2 linked regions of the Homo sapiens genome follow. The protein of the gene in region 2 interacts with the protein of the main gene of each other region in a pairwise test. Each region holds a gene or a part of one and is shown on either strand. Other genes may lie near its edges.

What was found. The genes of interacting proteins can lie anywhere in the genome.
Region 1: the proteins of CDIP1 (region 2) and OTUB2 interact in binary tests that used the Homo sapiens proteins (3 or more experiments, as listed by UniProt).

Annotation. Positions count from the first base shown.
Region 1 is NC_000014.9:94,024,446-94,028,045, forward strand, and holds the start of OTUB2 (ubiquitin thioesterase OTUB2), read left to right. Parts: upstream 1-1,894; 5' UTR 1,895-2,092; coding exon 2,093-2,095; intron 2,096-3,600. UniProt on the Homo sapiens protein: Hydrolase that can remove conjugated ubiquitin from proteins in vitro and may therefore play an important regulatory role at the level of protein turnover by preventing degradation.
Region 2 is NC_000016.10:4,537,162-4,541,103, reverse strand, and holds the start of CDIP1 (cell death-inducing p53-target protein 1), read left to right. Parts: upstream 1-2,330; 5' UTR 2,331-2,402; exon of another isoform or gene 2,403-2,503; intron 2,504-2,674; exon of another isoform or gene 2,675-2,779; intron 2,780-3,942. UniProt on the Homo sapiens protein: Acts as an important p53/TP53-apoptotic effector. Regulates TNF-alpha-mediated apoptosis in a p53/TP53-dependent manner.

The DNA of each region.
Region 1 (3,600 bases), on a different chromosome or scaffold from region 2:
CCTTCTGCAACTTTTTTCCTTCTAACCAGGCTTTAGAGAGCTTACGAGGAATCTTGATTAGTTAGACTAAGGAAATTACATTTTCCCTGCGAATTGAGCTAAATTTGAGGAAATATTCTGTTACGCATGCACTGAGATTCTTGTAAGATTGTGTGTGTGTGTGTGTGTTTAAAGCCTTCATTACTACAAATATTAAAACAAAACAAAACAAAACATTTTTAACCACCCAGATTGTCCAACCCTCTCACTGAGTGAGGAACCAGAAGACCAGAGAGGGCCTGGGCATTGCCTGGGGTCACACAGCAGTGAGTGGCAGAGCCCAAGGGCCCAGAATTCCTCATGGACTCCAGCCCAGTGCTCCTTCCACACTCCCATGCTGGCTTGGTTTGGAACTGCTGGGGCCTGAAGAAGGGCAGAGAGTGAGCCCAGGACTCGGGGCTTAGTGCAGCCAAACTTGAGGGCTCATCAAAGCCTTGGCTGAAAAGACTCTTCACCCATACCCCTCACTCAGACACCATGGAACCTGGCTCAGTCATTCCTCCACAGAGGGAAGCTAACACGCCTTGGAATGAGCACTGGTTGGGGAGTCAGGAGTCCAGGGATCCAGCCCAGCCAGGCCACTTCTTAGCTCAGCAGCACTGGGCTGCTCCTGTCACCTCTCTGGCTTCCTTGGCGGTTAAAAAAAAAAAAAGAGCGAGAAACCCCCCGAAAACAAATGGGGGTCAGGGGCGGAGGCAGGTAACACAGCCCCTGTAGTCACATGCAGAGTGAATTCGAAACCAGCTCTGGAGTCACACTGCCTGGGACTGAATCCCACTTCAGTGCTATGTGACTAAGGCAAGGAACGTAAACTCTCTGTACATGTTTCCTCATCTGTGAAACAGGGATAATAATAACAGGACCTACCCCCTTAAACCAGTTGTGAGGAAATTAAGTAAGATAATTCTGTATATGTGGAGAGTTCAGGATAGCGCCTGATACATAGTAGGTGTTCTGCATAACTGTGTAAATAACTGTAAAAAATTACCTGCTATTGTTACTGCTCCTTGAGCCTCCATTGACCTCACACTCCCTGCCCAGGACATGATACATGCTTGGAAGACTCAGATGTCTGTATGCCCAGAGCCTAGCCCAGTACCTGGGACTTACGTAGTAAGAGTGGGGCGCGGGGGGCGGGGGCGGGGGGCAGCAGCAGGAAGGGGAATTGCTCAATACACGCTCCTGGAAATATTAATTTTTTGAAGTGGATGCATGCAATGCACTGAGCCCCCCTCCCCTACAAACTCTCCCTCCCACACCCAAGCAGCTCCTCCAGGACTCAAGGGCTGGTGAATGAATCTTTGAATGATAAATATTCCTATTTTGATGTCCATTAATAATGAGCTTGTAGGCAAGATGAGTCATCTAGACCTGGTTCACGGATATCCCTACAATTCCAGAGCCACAGAGTCAACGATCCTGGACATTCATTCATTCAACAAACATTAACTGGGTGCGTGGCAACCTACTGATTCATGAGTTGGAAGAGGATAAAATATTATATAGAAGCCATACTTAATGTTATTGGACACGTGTTCCCTAAGCGCCTATCCTCTGATCTTGTGCAAACTATACTTATGTGACCTTGTTTATGAATTAATGACGGCCAGCTAATCCTTCAGAAGACTCCAATTTTAGGTTTGCGCAAAAGCCCTTCAGCCTTTACAAACGAGGACCTGTCTTTCTGGGTTGAGCTAACTCCTCTGCTAGTTAAAAGCTTTCCTGTGTCTTTAAAAGGGGGAGGCATCCTATCAAATGGACCCTAACGCATAGGCTGAAGGCACGTGAAGTCCCACCCACTTTCTATGACGTCCCGCGTCCCGGCTTCTGATTGCCCGCCTGAGACGTCAATCGCAGGGCGTGTGTCTTGCTGGGACACAGTGGAGGTCTAACCTTTGGTTTGCGGAGCGGTCGGGTGTATTCTCCGCCGCCCCCACGCCCTCGAGGTCCCCGCCACCGAACCAGCGGCGGAGCCCGCCCGCGCCTCCCGCGGCATTCCCGCACCGGATCGCTCCTCGCTGGGGCGGGACCTGGCCTGGCGGCTCTGGTCACTATGGTCAGTGATCGTGGGGGATCGCGAAGGGGGAGCGGGCAGGGGGCGCGGTGGGCGGGGTCGCTGCCGGAGCGGGTGCACCCGCGGGACGGGGGTCGGACGCGAGGCTCAGCCCCCAGCTCGCCCCCGCCGCTTTCCGACCCCCTGAAATACGGAGTCCGGACGGATACTGAGGGCCAAGTCGCGCCCCCCTGTACCCCGTGGATGTGCAGCTGAGGAGGTCCAGCTCGGCCCCGAGCCCCCGCCCCCAGCGTGTCCGCCCCAGGTGGCCCGGGGCGCCGCCTCGACGGCGCTGGGTGGGCGCCCTCGACGGAAGCAGGGACAGGGAGGCTGCAGCACTACGGGTCGCCTCCTCTTTGTTAAGTAGCCCCCCAGTCAGCAGTCCACGGCCCCACCCACCCGACGGCTCGGCCGTCAAAGACCTCCTGGCCCCTGCCCCAACCCCAAGGGAGGATCTAGGGGTTGCACGGGGCACCAGGTCGTCTGCTCCGTGGGCGACTAGACCGTCTCCATCTTTGGAGTCAGGACCCACCTAGAGAGGATGCCTCAAGTTGTGAGGCGCATGAGTTAGGGGTCGGGGAAAAGAAAATACTCAGGAATCCCTGATGGAGAGCCTTGTCTGCGCAGAACGAGGCCCAGAGACCCTCTGAGCCAGGCTAACCCTGGGCTTGGGCAGGTGGGGAAACTGAGGCCAGACAGGGCAGGGCTGGTACTGATTGTGGTGGACCTGGGGCTTGAACCCAGGCTCTGGACTCTCAGTTCAGTGCTCTTTGTGTTACATCGGCTCACCTTCCAGGTTGCCGTGGGGTCAGGCATCCTGCAGGGGACTGGGTGGCATGGCTGCCTAAGACCCTTCAACCCTGAGCAGGGGGAGCCTGTGGAGTGAGGGCTGGGTGGCTTGAGTCGGGGCCACACAGCCCCAGGTTCAAGTCTCACTTCCACCTGTTGGAAAGCGAAGAGGCTTTGGTTGGTCCGCTCTCCCCCTCAGCACCGTTTTGCACATCTGTGTCATGGGAACCATGTGATATGATTAGCTGGAGCTTTTCCTGTGACAACAGAGTCCTGGAAATGGGTGTGCACAGATGCCTGGTTCTTCAAGCTTAGCCTCCTCTCTCCTATGACTGGGCAGGAAAATGGGTCACCACGGCAGCATGCTGCCGGGCTGGGGCATGGGTCAAAGCCTGGTCATGGCCTGGCACGATCTGGGTGTGGCATAGGCAGCCAGGGCACTCGAGCTGGGACTGTCCTTGCCAAGCCAGCCTGCTGCCTGGGGCATAGCTGGGGGCCTCTGGAGCATCTGGAAGCACCAGCTTCCTGCTTCCACTTGGTGCCCAAGGGTTTACCTGGTTGAGCTGCTCCTGGAAGGCAGCCCAGGTGTTTCTGCATCACCCACCAGGGAGTGGTGGAGCTGGGGTAATGATGGGCTTAGCCACCCGGGAGCTGGAGGCTGGCATGCCCTCTGGCCACCACTCGGCAGCTGAGAGCACAGCAGAGGCGGTAGCTGCTCT
Region 2 (3,942 bases):
AGTCTCTACTAAAAATACAAAAATTAGCCAGGCGTGGTAGCAGGTACCTATAGTCCTAGCTCCTCAGGAGGCTGAGGCAGGAGAATTGCTTGAACCTGGGAGACGGAGGTTGCAGTGAGCCGAGATCGAGCCACTGCACTCCAGCCTGGTGACAGAGCGAGACTCCATCTAAAAAAAAAAAAAAATCCAAACTGCAGACAGGTATGGTGGCTTATGCCTGTAATCCCAGCTACTTGGGAGGCTGAGGCAGGAGGACTGCTTGAGCCTAGGAGTTGTCACAGTGAGCTATGATCATGCCACTGTACTCCAGCCTGGGTGCCTGATCAAGATCCTATCTCAAAAAAAAAAGAAAGAAGAATCCAGAGTTTTATTTTATTTTGAGAGAGTTTTGCTCTGTCTCCCAGGCTGGAGAGCAGTGGTGTGATCTTGGCTCACTGCAACCTCTGCCTCCTAGGTTCAAGCAATTCTCCTGCCTCAGCCTCCCGAATAGCTGGGATTACAGGCGTGTATGCCGGGCTAATTTTTGTATTTTTAGTAGAGACGGGGTTTCACTGTGTTGGCCAGGCTGGTCTCAAACTCCTGACCTCAAGTGATCTGCCTGCCTCGGCCTCCCAAAGTGCTGGGGTTACAGGCATGAGCCACCACGCCTGGCCAGAGTTCTTAAAATGACCTACAAATCTCAACATGACTTGGATCCAGCCTGCCCCACTGACATCCTCACCTTTCTGACTCTCTCACCCAAGGCAATCCCTCCCTCTGGAATGCCCTTCCAGAATAGAATGTCTTTTCAATTTCATGCCCCTGCCTCAGCATCGCCTCCTCTGAGAGGCCTTTTCTAACCAACCTGTCTAGTGGCACCACCCCGTAACTCTGTTAGGGCGTCCCTTCCTCTCCTTCACAGTCCTGGGCATTTTGTGGTTTCCTTGTATACTGTCTGTAACAAAGGAAGTACCTGAGCAAGTAGCCACCCAGTGGGTTCTTCTTCCTGGCTGCCCAGATAGAGCCAATGTATCAAGACAGGGGAACTGCAATAGAGAAAGAGTTTAATCCACACAGAGCTGGCTGAATGGGAGACCAAAGTTTCATTACTCAAATCAGTCTCCCTGGAAATTCAGAGCCTAGAGTTTTTAAAGGGTAATTTGGTAGATAAGCTGCCAAGGAGTAGGGAGTGCTGATTGGTGGGGTGGGAGATGAAATCACAGGGTGTTGAAGGATGCAAGAACTGGTTGAGTCAGATTACAGCTCTAGGTGGCCTTGGCTGGTGCATCAGACTGCAGGGTCAGAAAAACACCTAAGAGTACCAATCTTAGGTTTTACAATAGTGATATTATACCTAGGATCAACTGGGGAGGTTTAGAATCTTGTGGCCTCTGGGTGCATGACTCCTAAACCGTAATTTCTTTCTTTCTTTCTTTTTTTGAGATGGAGTCTCAGTCTCTTGCTCAGGCTGGAGTGCAGAGGCATAATCTCAGCTCACTGCAACCTCCATCTCTCGGGTTCAAGCAATTTTTGGGCTTCAGCCTCCCTAGTAGTTGGGATTACAGGTGCGTGCCACCATACCCGGCTAATTTTTGTATTTTTAAATAGAGACATGGTTTCACCATGTTGGCCAGGCTGGTCTCAAACTCCTGACCTCAAGTGATCCACCTGCGTCAGCCTTCCAAAGTGCTGGGATTACAGGCGTTAGCCACTGAGCTGGGCCCTAAACTATAATGTCTAATCTTGTAGCTAACGTGTTACTCTTACAAAGGAAGCCTGGTTCTCAGGCAACAAGGGGGTTTGTTTTGGGAAAGGGCTGTTAACTATCTTTGTTTCAATATTAAACTATAAACTAAGTTGCTCCCAAAGTTAGTTCTGCCTATGCCTAGGAATGAACAAGGACAACCTGGAGGTTAGAAGCAAGATGGAGTGGGTTAGGTCAGCTCTCTTTCACTGTCATAATTTTCTGTTGTAATTTTTGCAAAGGCAGTTTCAAGCGCAGGGACAGTGACCGTGTGGTTCAAGGTTTTATGTAATGCACCTCCCAAACTCAATAAATATTAGTCGCATAAAAGAAAAAATGCAGCCCTGGAGGAAGATGCCCTGCCCTGTTGCTGGCATGAGTGAAGAGGAGGCGCTCACAGGGACGGTTCTTTCCCTATTCTCCAGCCTCGTGTACATTGGGCAAACAGGCCCCGACCATCCCACGTGCTCAGCCCCAGCTCTAGGCCAAATCGCCTCCGCTCCCACTGACGTCATCACGGCGCATCACGTGCCTCCCGAGACCCCACCCCCCACCGTGACGTCCCGGGCCTCGGCCCTGGTCCAAAGTCTACCCGCCTCCTTGTGACAGAAGTGCGACTGCCAGCTGCCGAGGCGTTCGGTCCTGCTGTTGCGGCCGCTGCCCCAGGGCTGCGGGGACGGTGAGTCGACTGGACGCATTCGGAGACGGCTTCGCGCGGGAGCCCTCCTCCCCGGGGGAAGGGTCTGGGCGCCAGCTCTCCTCAGGTCGGGGCGTGACCTCGGACCGTGGCGCCCCCTCCCCGCCCCCGCCCGCGGCGCCTGGGCGGTGCATGCCGGGCACCGTAGTCCCCAGCCTCTCAGAGCGGGTTGTGGTGGGGGGGGTGACCGGGCGGACTACAAGTCCTAGAAGCCTCTGGGCGGTGGGGTGGGCGGTGGGTTGGGGGGTTTCGTTGTGCGCGCAAAGCCGCGCGGGGCTGAGGGTCTTGTTCTGCCGGCGCCTGTCCGGACCCGGGCCCCTCTCCGCTTTCGGCCGGCCTCGGGCACCGGGCTTCTGGAGGTAAAGCGGGGCCGGCGGTTGGGGCGCGGCATGGCGGGGCCCGTCCTCCCCTCAGGGCGCTGCCGAGACCTAGCGCGGCCCTGGGGATGTCGAAGCCGCTGCGGTGGCGGGGCCCGGGCGGGCGCCCCGCTGTGTGCCGCGGGGTTGTGCGCCCGGAATGGCAGCCTGCTCGCCCGCACGTTTTTCCGTCAGGGAAGGTTGTGGAAATTGCCATCTCCGTCTTGCAGGGCGAGACGGGGAGGGGAGGGGTGGGAGTTGTTTTCTCAAGGAAAGGGGGTCGAGGAGGAGCCCCGTGGCCGAGCCAGCCCCTGCCGAGCCCCGCGGGTGACCTTGGCCGTCCCGGAGCCCAGCAGTGTCCTGCACCCGCGCCCGGCTCGCCGACGTGTGGAGTCGGGATGTGGCGCTCGGCCGCGCATCCCCGGCGGAGATGGCGACGGCCTGGCCTAGCTTGGGGCTAGGAGTCGCGCCTTCGAGGACCTTGGCTTAGCGAGTTCCTTGGGGGGCTTCTCAACAGGTGTTAGATGAGGTGGGGCGAGTGGCTGTGAGTTCCTCCAAAGGTGGGCTCAAGATCCTCTGCGTCAGAACCACCTGGGGCTCTTGGGAAACGGGCAGATTCCTGGGGCCCACCCCAGGTGTTGGGATGCTGTAGTTCCGTCGCGCTGCCCAGGAATCTGCATTTAGTAGGCTCCCCAGATCATTCCCGGGCGCAGCTGGGGCTGAGAACCTGTCCCAGTGAGGGGGTTGGCGGGCCCGGGGGCAGGGACGTTCCATAGTGTTTCTGCCAGTTTCTTCTGTATTCTGGGGCCTGATGCTGGGCGGGGCGGTGCCCGGGCAAGTTACTGCTCTCCTGGGTTCTTTGCTGCTTCCCTTGGGGCCGATCTAGGTAGAACTGGGTGGAGGGAGGCGTGCCAGCTCTGCCTTGCCCTCTGCCCTTAATCGGAAAGGTTATGCCCAGTCACTTGCCAGTCTCAGAAGACTCCCCCTCTACACATTCAGTTACGAAAAACGTGAAACATACAAAAGTTGAAGGAATTTTACAGTGAACACCCACAGACCACCACCTAGAATGTAGAGTTAACACTTTATTGTATTTCATCACATATTTGTCCAACCAGCAGTCCCTCTTGTTTTTTGTGTCAAAGTAAGTTGCAGATATCAGTGCC